Linked DNA regions of Homo sapiens. The protein of the gene in region 4 purifies or fractionates together with the protein of the main gene of each other region. This does not show direct contact. Each region holds a gene or a part of one and is shown on either strand. Other genes may lie near its edges.

The links.
Region 1: the proteins of TPX2 (region 4) and TRIP12 purify together in Homo sapiens (affinity purification with mass spectrometry; one large-scale study listed by BioGRID and IntAct). This does not show direct contact.
Region 2: the proteins of TPX2 (region 4) and ZC3H4 purify together in Homo sapiens (affinity purification with mass spectrometry; one large-scale study listed by BioGRID and IntAct). This does not show direct contact.
Region 3: the proteins of TPX2 (region 4) and ARGLU1 purify together in Homo sapiens (affinity purification with mass spectrometry; one large-scale study listed by BioGRID and IntAct). This does not show direct contact.

Annotation. Positions count from the first base shown.
Region 1 is NC_000002.12:229,793,010-229,796,509, forward strand, and holds part of TRIP12 (E3 ubiquitin-protein ligase TRIP12), read right to left. Parts: intron 2,322-3,500; coding exon 2,170-2,321; intron 137-2,169; coding exon 1-136. UniProt on the Homo sapiens protein: E3 ubiquitin-protein ligase involved in ubiquitin fusion degradation (UFD) pathway and regulation of DNA repair.
Region 2 is NC_000019.10:47,072,277-47,075,776, forward strand, and holds part of ZC3H4 (zinc finger CCCH domain-containing protein 4), read right to left. Parts: intron 438-3,500; coding exon 76-437; intron 1-75. UniProt on the Homo sapiens protein: RNA-binding protein that suppresses transcription of long non-coding RNAs (lncRNAs). LncRNAs are defined as transcripts more than 200 nucleotides that are not translated into protein.
Region 3 is NC_000013.11:106,541,173-106,544,137, forward strand, and holds the end of ARGLU1 (arginine and glutamate-rich protein 1), read right to left. Parts: coding exon 2,824-2,965; 3' UTR 501-2,823; downstream 1-500. UniProt on the Homo sapiens protein: Dual function regulator of gene expression; regulator of transcription and modulator of alternative splicing. General coactivator of nuclear receptor-induced gene expression, including genes activated by the glucocorticoid receptor NR3C1.
Region 4 is NC_000020.11:31,794,790-31,798,289, reverse strand, and holds part of TPX2 (targeting protein for Xklp2), read right to left. Parts: intron 887-3,500; coding exon 775-886; intron 1-774. UniProt on the Homo sapiens protein: Spindle assembly factor required for normal assembly of mitotic spindles. Required for normal assembly of microtubules during apoptosis. Required for chromatin and/or kinetochore dependent microtubule nucleation.

The DNA.
Region 1 (3,500 bases), on a different chromosome or scaffold from region 4:
AGCCAGAGGGTCAATCTTGACAGGTCCACCCTTCCACTGCTTCACATTTGCACAGTCTGGATGCCTTTGTAACTGGCATTTTAATTGATGTGTGTTGAAAAATTTTAAAGCCTGTGATCCTCTGTTGAGAGAAAAGCTCAAGATAATTTGTGAAAAAAAAGTTAGTCTATTATTTTCACATTTAATATACATTAATTCAAATAAAGGCAAGTTAATACAAACTGCATTTTCATAAGACACACTAGTACTAAGCATTTACTTACCAGTTCTGTGAATGGTAAAGCCAATAATTCAAGTTATTTAGAAAAAATTTTTATACGTAAGAAATAAAAGACGGATGTGTATGCATGCATATGAAAACCTTAAGTCAATATTTGATCTCTGTCCCATCATAAATCCATGGGAGCAGAAATACTTCACCCATGAATATTTAATTATTTTTCTGGAACAAAAATTCCTGAACTATTTAAGCACACTCACTTCTGCAATATTTTGCCCATTCCTATTGAATTATATTTTTTAAAAAGAAAAAAAAAACTCTTTATTTCAAAGATTTCAGCTACAATATTACATTAAAAACTAACCTTTAAAATTTACCTTGCTATAATAGTTTTGAACGAAGCGGTTTAATAGCTACTGCAGTTGAAACCTGGTCATGATGTTTAATTGCTCATTTCAGAAAAGCTCTGGCAGGAGTCAGATACAAACTTAAACTGTGATTATCTGTATGATTCCACAAAGCAAGCTTGTCCAACCTGCGGCCCACAGGCCACATGCAGCCCAGATGGCTTTGTATATAGGCCAACATAAATTCGTAAACTTTCTTAAAATACAATGAGTGTTTTTTTTTTTTAAGCTCATCAACTAACATTAGTGTTGGTGTATTTTATGTGGCCCAAGACAATTCATCTTCCAATATAGCCCAGGGAAGCCAAAAGATTGGACCCTCCTGCACATAAAGCACACAAATAGGGATGTGGAGAATATTCCATTTTATGAATATATACATATGCAAACATATTTTATATAAATTTGGACACAAAAAGCTTCATGATTTTCTCAAGCACAGGTCAAAATGCCCCCTTATTTCATGAACTCCTCCAGGAAATCATAACGATCAAAACTGAATACCACACACTACATTAAATTTCAAAGCAGAAAAGAAACCCTAGTCCATGATGTGATTGCTTTATCACTCAAAAATGCATATGGTTTTTAATTCAAACAAAGTTTTTTAAATGTTTTTAAAACGTCAAAATGTGGATTTAAAAACCAAACTAGGCTGAGTGTGGTGGCTCAGAAATCCCAGCACTTTGGGAGGCCAAGGCAGGAGGATCACTTGGGCCCAAGAGTTTGAGACCAGCCTGGGCAACAAAGTGAGACCCCGTCTCTACAAAAAATAAAAAAATTAATGGAACATGGTGGCACATGCCTGTGGCCCCAGCTACGTGGCAGGCTGAGGCAGAAAGATCTCTTCAGCCAGGAGGTCAAGGCTGCAGTGAGCCATGTTCACACTAGTGTAATTTGGCTTGGGCAACAAAGTAAGACTCTGTCCCAAAATAAATAAATAAATAAATAAATAAATAAAAACCAAACAAATTTCCTATTTTCTAGGCCTCCGGTCAAAATATTCCATGAAACTTGTAACATTCCACAACATAGAACAATTCTTTCCTGTAGCACCTCAAGAGTCCTTAAAACTACATTAAAAATATATATATTTATTAAACTAGTAAAACTTCAAACATTTGACCCCATCAAAATACAAAGTTATAGCCACTAATATTACATATAAATCATATCGCTCAAAATGTAAACATTACTCACAGCCACAAAAAATTTTTTATCCCTACTGAAGTTAAACATAAAGTTCTTAAGGAAGTTTTGTATGCTGAAGTGTATCAATTTAAGGAAAACTAAGCCTATTACAAGTTACAAATACAATCACTGGATTATATATTTATAAAGCATCCTGTTTAAGGCATATGGTATAATTTTAAAGATAAGAAAGCATTTGATTCATTCTTTAGAGTGCTTAATTTCTTTCATCATTACAGCTGAATGTTTTCTGGGCCAATCAAGACTTTACCAGACCTCTTGCCATCTTACTTCAGTGAAATTAAGTACCAAATTCCAGTGGCAAGGGTATAGCCAGGCAATGGTCCTTACCTGCCTCCTGTCCCATTTCCACTAGGGAAATCATGTACTTTGACTGGAAATTGTTCCATCTGGCTGAGGCAGTTGTTCATCTTGTGAACTAATGCCAACAAAGGTGCATTACCCACTGGTTCCACTCTTCCAATGGGCTCTTCTCCAGGAAGCTAAAGTTATAAATAAACAAACAGGTTAAACAAAGCCTTTTCAAAACAAAAGTCTCCTCAAAGAGAAGATTTAATAAGCAGCTTTATAAAAGAGAATAATTTGTCTATTCATCTTTATCTTTTATGGCAGATTTGGTTTGAACGATGTTACCACGTCAATTATTTCAATAAAGACAACTGTTTTGTACAGCCCACAATCCTGTATTCACAATCTCTACATCCAAAGGCTCTGAAAACACAAGTCACTTGGTGGCAAAATCTGATCCAAACAGACATAAGGCTATTTACAGTCTTTATTTATCTGATTTTAGTAAGAATATTCATGTTATGCTATAAAAATATTTAATGCATATAATATACAGTGCTATTCAGAAACTGCTGGGAATTTTAATGTACTACACACTGTAGGACCTTTGAAACCGACCAAACTCCAGGGGTTTCAGAAAAGAGATTGCACATAATCTTAAGTATGCTGTAAAACTATACATAATACTGTCACGCTTCTAATGAATCTCCAATAAATACTAACTTTGCTTTAGGTTGACTCACAAGTTAAAATACAAGCAATGCTCAAATGCCTCTGAGGACTGCAAGCGCATGGTGAAATAGTGTTAATACATAGGAGAGCTATGCTAAGCCCTATTACACAGATAATAGGGAACGTTTCCAAGTGATGCCTTCTCTTTAAGCCACTGTAAAACAAGGAGAATGCTGTCAACAGCATCCAAGGATTACCCTCTTGCTCTGGCCCACTTAAGAGTGAAGGAAGGGGAGCCACTCTGTGGCTTTGTAATCCACATTATAAACGGTGACATAAATGGTCATTAAGCGCCCTTGATTGGAACTGTTACAACTGTATTTTATGTACAAAACAAGAAAATATAACTCCTCTATCTTATTATAGATGTCTGTTTCACTAAAAGGAACTAATACAAACTTCAATACATTTAAAAACAAATATTGCAAGTAAAATACATTCACAGGTGAGAGACTACTATTAATGGCTCATCCTGCAAGCAAAAAAGACTCAAGATACTTCAATCATAGAAATAGTGACATGGGCTTTGTTAAATCCCCATTTCATTGTTTTACTATTTACTTTGATATACAGAAGTTGAAGGATTCCAACTATGTGAAAACCTAGAAGTTTTCCCTCAATGTCTTGACCAAGACCTGCTG
Region 2 (3,500 bases), on a different chromosome or scaffold from region 4:
CTTGCCCTAACAAGAGGAGCCTGGCTGGGCCCAGGACAGCGCCCACTGCCTGTCACGGGGGTCCAGGGCACTCACCTCACACCCAGCTTCTCAGCCAGCTGTCCCGTGGGCCGCACCACGATCTCAAACAAGGAGGGGATCTTCTTGTTGTACATGTCCTGCTGCTGCAGCTGCTGCGGGGACAGTGGCTCATGCACCGGCATGGGCATCTGAGGGGGCCCGGGCGGTGGGGGAGGGGGAGGGGGCGGGGGCGGGGGGCCACCCTGCATGGGCCTGCCGTTGGGAGAGGTTGGAGCCTGCGGGCCAGGGGGCCGAGGAGGGGTGGGCAGGAGGCCCACACCAGGGGGCGGTTTGGGCAGGGGGTTGATGCCCTGCTTCTTCAGTTCCTCCACCTCCTTCTCATCCTCGGCACCTGCTTCTGCATCATCGGCCAACATCTGCGGGTGTGAAAGAACAAAAGAAGGTGTGGACGGGGTCAGGATGGAAACGGACCTCTCCAGGTCTGAGAGCTGAAGTTTATGAGGAAAAGTCCATAATACAAGGACCTTGAGATCTAAAGGCATAAAGACCACAATGGCTCTGTAACAAAAATCATCATCAGCCACCTCTCTGCTCCACTCTCGGGGACCAGCTGGTAGAGGGGGGGCCATTCCTGCTCTATGGCAAAATACACATAACAAAGCATACTGTTTAACCATTTAAAGTGAACGATTCAGCTGGGCGCAGGGACTCACATCTGTAATCCCAGCACTTTGGGAGGCCGAGGTGGGTGGATCACTTGAGGCCAGGAGTTCAAGACCAGTCTGGCCAACATGGCAAAACCCCATCTCTACTAAAAATACAAAAATTAGCCAGGCATGGTAGTGCACGCCTGTAGTCTCAGCTACTCGGGAGGCTGAAGCAGGAGAATCACTTGAACATGGGAGGCAGAAGCTGCAGTGAGCCAAGATCGCACCACTGCACCCCAGCATGGACAACAGAGGAGACTCTGTCTCAAAAATAAATAAATAATGCCAGACGTGGTGGCTCATGCTTGTAATCCCAGCACTTTGGCAGGCTGAGGTGGGCAGATCACCTGAGGTCAGGAGTTTGAGGCCAGCCTGGCCAACATGGTGAAACCCCATCTCTACTAAAAATACAAAAAAAATAGCCGGGCATGGTGGTGGGCACCTGTAATCCCAGCTACTCAGGAGGCTGAGGCAGAAGAATCGCTTGAACCTGGGAGGCGGAGGTTCCAGTGAGCCGAGATCACACTACTGCACTCCAGCCTGAGCGACAGAGCCAGACTCCATCTCAAAAAACAAAAACAAAACAAAGTGAACGATGCAGTGGCATTTGGCACATTAACAATGTTATGTAACCGCCACCTCTATATAGTTCCAGCACATTTTCATCACCCCCAAAAGAGACCCTGTACACACTAAGCAATCGCTCCCCACCCTCTACCCCCAGCCCCCGGCAGCCACTCTGCTTTCCGTCTCTGCGGACCTGCCCCTGCTGGACAGCTCCTGCGAACAGACTCATGCGCTGTGTGCGATGGGCGCTTTCACTTAGCAAAGTGCATCTATCTACAACACTGCTACATCTATCAGTATGTCACTCTGTTTTTTATGGCTGAATCATATTCCCCTGTCATGTTTGGATTTTAAGGGCCTCTGATCTCAACTCCTGACCATGACCCTTAGGGCCTAAGAGCAGGGGTGGGTGTCTGGGTGTCTAGGTATCTGGGGACGACTGGGTAGCTTCCTGGCAGCTTCATTTCCTCCCACGATCCCGACTCCTCCACCCCAACCACCCAGCCTCGTTTCAGTGCAATGAGCAGCCAAGCTCTCCCCTACAGGGCCAGGACCAGCTTCCCCCAGGTTTTTATTTTTCCTGTTATTCCCATGTGGCTCAACGTCACTCAACTGTTGAGGTCCCTCATTAGATGTCAATTCATAGTGTCTGTCCAGTCTCCTGTATTCACTACTGGGTCACCAGGAGTTCTCTGCCAACACTGCCTATGCCTTGTCGGATTATTCAGTCATTCCCATGTTCATCCTGGCTCAACCTCCCCATCAACTCCAAGAGGGCAGGACTGTTTCTTCCCTGCTATATCCCCAGGGCCCCCACGAGACCTGATACAGGGCAGACGCCCAGTGAGTGAATGAGAAATGTCAAAATCTCAACTGGACTAGAATGTCTCATCAGTTAGGATAGCGTGCAGAAAAGTGACACAGGAGGCCTGGCTGCTCTCCTTGGAAGGCCTGCTTGCAAGGCTAGGCCTCGGCTGGTGTCTGGGAAGCTGCATTTTGGGAGGGCTCCCAGCATTCACTGTCCAGTAAGAGGGGCTCACTGCATCTAAACTGTTTCTGCAACCAATGCAGTTTGTGCTGAATGCCTGCTTTGCCCCCCAAATCTGGAATTTTGGTCCATGCTGGGCAGAGGCTGCCTAGGTGAGCAGCCTAGTGAAAACCCTGGGCGCTGAGCAAGTCTCCTCGCAGACAGCATGCCACTCGTGCTGTCACAACTGGAGGAGGGCAGCGTGGCCCCTGCGAGTCCACAGGAAGAGGATGCGCCTGCTTCCTCCAGGCGCCCTCATGTACTCATTCCCAGGGCTGAGTTTGCCTGTGTCCCTTCACCGCAGTTAACATCTTGGCCGTGAGTCCCCCAGCAAGTTGCTCTGGGTCATCTTGGGGACCCCAGCACAGATCCCTTAGTTGGTCCTAACACAGGGTCATCAAGATAAACTAGTCCTGCCCCTCTGCCCAGGAACAGCAAGGCGGACAGAAACAGGACCCCCTGGTGGGGGTTGTGCATTCGCAGTTTTCCCTTCTCCTAGCCATTAGCAATGGTATCTGGACCCTGGAACCCCAGGGTCCAATAAGAATGTGGCTTCATGGAGGAGGTGTGGAAAACGACGCGGTGGAACCCCTCTGTCCTTCTGAACCCTGATATTCCAGGGGTGGTCAGCGTGTGAACCAGCAGCACAGGGGGACCCGTGGAGGCAGAACCCGCATTCTGCCCTTTGAGCGTGGGCACCACCACCTGAGATGAGCCTTGCTGGGAGGGCCCAGAGCCTTGCGCCAGCTGCTTTCAACACTGCCACGGGCTCACTTCCTCCTGGCCCAAGGGCCCTTCCTCAACTGTGTGTGGGGCCATGGCTTGCGCTGCAGCTGCCACCCTGCATCTCCCTCCTCCTCCTCCTCTTCAGTCCCCACTGCCGCACATCCTGGGGCCGCCAGTGTCACCTCCTCACAAAGCCTCTTGAATGTCTGCCTCCTGAATAGAGCCCAGCTAGAGTCCTGGGCTCCCACACTTATTCTTCACGGCCTGATCCCCACGTGTGTGTGCGCACACACACATACACACACACACTCACACTCCCCATGTGTCATCAGCATCCGCCCAAGGACCTAACCCTGCCTCCTCAGCACCCCCAGTGCCTGGCACAAACAAGGCACAGAGATTTATTGAGTGAACGACTAAGCAAGGAACACAAACCAATGCATTCCCTGGAA
Region 3 (2,965 bases), on a different chromosome or scaffold from region 4:
TCTCCTGGAGGGGGAGGAGAGCCTCAAAAATTAGGATAGCCTGTCTTCAGTATTTCTCATGGCCATTAATACAAAACAGATGAATGGTTTTGCGTGTAAAGATGCAGAAAATTTAGACAACTGAAAAGAGACGCTCTAATGGATAGAAATAGCTTTGGAGAAATGTCAGTGAAGTGACAGGCTCCTCATAAAATGAGGCATTAGAAATGATACATAGAGTTCAACAAGTCAGGATTCTACGCTTACTATACTTAGAAAATTGAAAAAATACAAACCACTGAAAATTCTTAAGATACTGCTAAATCCAGGACAGGTGGTGATACAAAAAAAAAAAAAAAAAAGCTATGGACACATACTAGCACAGTAAATGAATACGGAGATTACTTAGGGTAGAAATAGTCTGATTTGCTGCATCTTCATAAGGGAAACTGAAGTAGGTAAAATCTCATACTACAAACCCCTTCCCCAATTTAAAGCATTAAAGAGTCCTCACACCAAGCTAATTTAAAGGTTTAGTTTATACAATTGATAATTCTGCAAACCACAATATGTCAATAACTACATACTGTAATAAAAATAAACAAAGTCATACTTAATTCTATAATGCATTAAGAATAACCTAAAAAAACAAATTGTGAATAAAGGCATATTTAATAAATTAGGGAACATCTTAACTTCTAATAGACTGGGGGAAATTTTTAAGTTTTCTATGTACACAAAGGCAGTGGGAACAAATGAAAAAAACAAATTACTACATTGTTGCAGCACATTAAAGACTGGATGGTGTATATTATTCACAATTACATCCTCTTTCCCATAGCCTGGCAGAGGAAAGTAGTTACCAAGCACAGGAACAATTTCAACATCTCACTGGAGTCTCCAAAAGCAAGCAGATACTGCAGGATGTCATTAAGCAACTTACTGTCACTTCACACCATATGTGGCAGTAAGAAACTTAAAAAAAAAATTAAAAGGCACGCATAAGCTGATTTCAAATATTTTAAGTCCAGGCTACTCTCTTTAGATACAATGTTTTGAACACTTGTATAGAACAGTTTTTAAATAAACATTTCCAAAAACTTGAATACAGAACTTAGGAACCATGAATCTTCACCAAAAAAAGTTACATTGAAAAAAAAAAAAATTCATGAAATAATTACAGCTAACCTATATTTAGAGATAAAATATTTTTTGGCAACCTATATTCTTTAGGAAAATAAAATGTTTGATTTTAGAGTAAGTAGTATGTTTACTAAAAGTTCTCACTATATTTCATGCCTATTTAAAATTCTACCTTTAAAGATCTTTAAACTGATTTTATATTGTTCCTTACCACAATTAGACTCATTGAAGAGCTCAAAACTAAAGCAACAGCATTTTTCCTAGCATGCACACACAAAATAATCTACCATTTAGTCATCTCTTTAGCTTATGTTTTCAATTTTTAAGAATAATCAAACTGTCTAAAAAATATTGGGCAAAAATAAAAATATTTTCTCTACTTGATGACATGTTTATGCATCTCAGGTAGCATTTTAGATCAATATCCTTTTCTTGAATGTTTTAATACCAGTATACTTAAACATATGTTAAGAGTAAATGAGGCAGATTCTAGTGTATAAAATGAAAGCCATTCATAAGATTTCACATGCAAAAAAAAAAAAAAAATTCATAAAGTTCAAATGTGTTTGTCCTAAAAATAAACGTGCAAGTACACTACACAATGAAAATGACTCGACCATCTTAGCCTTTTTTTGACAGTATAAAGCTAAGTTCTTTCTGATGGCCCACTCTGAAAACGATCTCAGATTCCATAATTTAAAAGCATTTTTCTAGCCTTTATTAAGTATACTTTGTGATAATACTTATATCCTAAAACAGAGGCACAGGTTTGAGAATTTAAATCTTCTGGATGTTGTTAGTCTTTCTTAAAGGTAACACTGATGCCATTTGCTCTATCAGCATAAAGTTGATATTTGTAAAAATAGCCATTAAATACTAATTCACAAGTATATTTAATGTACATATAAACCCTATGTTAAAAGTATAAACAAGAGGAAATATAGTTCTAAGACTTCTAAATGGTTGACCATCAAAAAGTGAACCACCCTCTTTAAGACTTAACATAACATTAAAAAAAATTGCTTCAACATATGAATTTAAGACTTTACTTTATTCAGCAAAATCATTTATTTACACAATGGGGAATGCTGGTTTGATTTTGTCAATGAAATAAAAACAAAATGAACAGAGACAATACTGAACTGTATATATACTTTGTATCAGAGTTGACCAACTGTTTCCTTACCTGTATCAGGAACATCAAGAGCAACAGTATCACAAGGACACTGGTTTAACAATACACCACATAGGTCCAGTAATACCCTGGGAATTTCCCAATGCAATCACCAACTTTTTCTTTTTTTATAAATATATAAAAAAACAAAAAGTCAGCAAAACCAGCATTATGATGTAGCAAACAGAGTATAACTCTGAAGTCAGTGGGGTCAGTAAAAGCCTTATCAGACCATCCATAGTTTTACAATGTGATCTGCTCTTCCTCAGACCACTAATATAGAATCCAAACAGGTGAAAAATACGTCACTCCTTAGAATACAACAATGATCTGATAAGGATTTGACTTAGTGGAAGGAAAAAAAAAAAAAAAAAGGGAATTGCAGAGCATAGCCCCTATTAGAACAAGCTAACTTTCCAGATTTTACAAATTAAAAAAACAAAAACAAAAACAAAAAACCACTTCAACATGAAGCTACCATACAAAGTTTTTCCATTTTTCTTTGTAAAAAGTTCAGAGTTTGCAATTTAATCCTGGGTTTTTAATGAGAAGGACAGTTTTGGCCTGGACTTCCCCTTGCCCAGGATAATTTTTTGTTCTTCTTTTTGTTGACGTTGTCGTTCTTGTTCTAGTTTCATCCTTTCCTCATGAATCTTTCTTTGTTCTTCA
Region 4 (3,500 bases):
TGGCACAGACATGCACACTAACAGGAAGACTGTGCTCTAAACAAGCCCCATTGGGAGAAAGGTAGAGCCAACTAAATACAAAAAGTTTTAGAATTTTAAGAGTTCAAAGGGCCCCTGGAAATCGTCTGGTGTAATTGGGAAAAAGGCAAAGACATAAAGTAGCTTGCACAAAACTATATAGTGATTGATTTTGAGGCAGACATAGAAGAAAGATCCCAATATTCTTTTTTTCCCTTTTTGGAAAGATTTTTTTGAAAAAGAGATGGGGTCTTGCTATGTTGCCCATGCTGGTCTCAAATCCCTGGGCTCAAGTGATCCTCCTGTCCGGGCCTCCCAAAGTGCTGGGACTACAGGCATGAGCCACCACACCCGGTGGAATCCCAGTATTCTAGCACACTGCCCAGTGTTTAAGGAATCAAATGTTTTATATCTAAAGTTTGCTTCAGGGTGAATTCCAGAAAGCCATACTGGCTCTCCCTCCCTCATTTACTTGTTTCTCTGTGGATGGGGAAAACCTATCATTGTTGTTGAAATGCCAGCTGCTTCTGCCAAGGTTCATGTTAAATGAATCTGGCCCTAACACATCCTGCAACTCAACATAGCTGCTGGGTTCAATAAAGGCAAAAAACTGGGTCTAGGGGAAGAAAAGCTACCATCTGCTAAAGTCAAATGCTTCTAGTTGACACAGCATTGTACTGACACACTGAATTCCAGCATCCCACTGGGAAGTCTGACAATTCTGCCCGAGTCCCATCAGAGTACATATAATACTACCAGCAACTGATTTCTTCTCTTTCTTGGGAACAAAGGGCTCCTGAGAGATGACGGTGTTTGGACGAGCCTTGAAACAAGCTGCTTCTTTCTGCTGTCTCAGTTCTTCTTCCAGCTATTAGAGAGAAAGTCAGTCAGATGAGCAATGTCTCACCTTTCTATGACCACTACCTCAATAACTTAAGTTCTAATGTCTGAACTGCTTCATCAATAAAAATAGCAGATTTAATATAAACCCTAGTAAAAATCTTTCACACAAACTTTACAATGAACAGATCAGTCTGACAACATTTGAACTCACTGAGAACTAGAAAGCATTTTTAAGATACTTTTAAGATTCCCAAGTTTGCATTTTCGACATTAAAGTTTACTTTTTTTTTTCTTTTTAGTTTATGTTCACATTTATTTTTCTTATTATTATACTTTAAGTTTTAGGGTACATGTGCACAATGTGCAGGTTTGTTACATATGTATACATGTGCCATGTTGGTGTGCTAAAGTTTACTTTTAAATTAAAAAAAAAAAGATTCCAAACACAAAGAAATGATAAATGTTTGAGATTATGGATATGCTAATTACCCTGATCAGATCATTACACATTATACATATTGAAACATCACTATGTACCCCAAGAATATGTACAACTATTATTTGTCAATTAAAAAAAACAAAAAATTTTAAAGGTACTTTTAAGACCTATCTTTATATCATAAAAATAAACAACTAGACATTTTCTGCCTTCACACATGATTCATTAGGAACTATACAGTATCACCTATAAAGTATTCTTCCCACCTCCAAAAAAAAAAAAAAATCTAACCAGAATTGAATCAAGCCTCCAGATCTTACTACTCATTTATAGGAAATACAAGCAACAGAGGAACATGTTAGACAACTGTGTGGGAACGCAATCAGCAAAATCCAGATTGTGGAAAATCTACAGTACAAACAATCCAGTTTATTCAACAAATAAAATGCAAAGAGAGGAGCCTATAGATTGAAAGAAGATTCGGAGATTTAGCAAACAAAGGCACTATGTAGACTATATATGGATATTGATTTTAACAATTCAACTGTTTAAAAAATTATGAGAAATGTGCAGATATTTGATTATTTTTAATCTTTTTAAGTGTGAGAATATTATTGTGGTTATAAGTCTTTATATTTTAAATATATACACTGAAGTATTTTTGGATGAAAAGGGATGTTACATAGAATTTGTTTCAAAGTAATCTTACACAGGTAGAAGTATCCAGTGTAAGATAAGTGGGTAGAAGTTGGGATGAAACAAGACTTTTCATGTTTTGATCACTATAGAACCAGGTGATGGGTTCATGAAAATTCATTATACTATTCACCCTACTTTTATATTTCTGAAAAGCTTTTTAAAACAATTGTTTTTGTTGTTGTTCTTTGCAGAAAATGCCCTACACAGACATTCTGTGTCTTGGTCATTGAGAGGGGAAAATTCACTATTTCCAAGGCAACAGTCCTAAGGTTTCTTAGAGAACCACACTAACAGGGGACCAACGTTCAGTCATGTAAGCCATTACAACTCTCGGGCTTCAGGAGGGGTAATTCCTACAAACAAACAATAGCCTAGAGCTCCTTTTGGAAAGAATCCAAGATTAATGATGACATAAAAATCCAAAAAACTTAGAAATTCAGGGGAAATTTTTTCCAGCCACGTAGAATTAGATCCCAATTAAATCAGCAAATAACCAATTAATTGTTTTAAATCACCTGTCATTTATAAAGAGCAAATAGCACATCATGCTGAGAAAACAGCATTGTATATTTCAATCTATTCTCCCATACTGTTTCTTACCAATGCATCAACAGAAAGGAATAAACACAATGAATGAGTCTAATAGATGGAATAGATAAGATCTTAAAGAAACTCCCAACTCCAGAAAAGCCTGTCGGTTCCCACATTCCCCGGGTGATCACTTGGAGCAGGGGACATTCCCAGGTGATCACTTAGAGCAGGGGTCAGCAAACTCTGGCCTACAGGCCAAATCCAGCTTGCAACCTGTTTTAGGACAGCGCTTGAGCTAAGAATGGTTTTTACATTTTTAAAGAGTTGATTGGGCACAGCAGCTCATGCTTGTAATCCCAGCACTTTGGGAGGCCACGGTGGGCAGATCACTTGAGATCAGGAGTTTGAGACCAGCCTGGCCAACATGGCAAAACCTTGTCTCTACTAAAAACACAAAAATTAGCTGGGCGTGGTGGCACGCGCCTGTAATCCCAGCTACTCGGGAGGCTGAGGTGGGAGAATCACTTGAACCTGGGAGACGGAGGTTGCAGTGAGCCGAGATCGCACTACTGCACTCCAGCCTGGGTGACAGAGCGACACTCTGTCTCAAACCAAACAAAAAAAGAGTTGAAAACATGTAGCTGGGTGTGGTGGCTCACACCTGTAATCCCAGCACTTCGGGAAGCCGAGGCGGACAGATCACGAGGTCAGGAAATTGAGACCATCCTGGCTAACACGGTGAAACCCCATCCCTACTAAAAATATAAAAAAATTAGCCAGGCTTGGTGGTGGGCGTCTGTAGTCCCAGCTACTCAGGAGGCTGAGGCAGGAGACTGGCGTGAACCCAGGAGGCGGAGCTTGCAGTGAGCCGAGATTGTGCCACTGCACTCCAGCCTGGGCAACACAGCAAGGCTCTGTCTCAAAAAACAACAACAACAACAACAAAATGTGTGCGTACACACACACATAC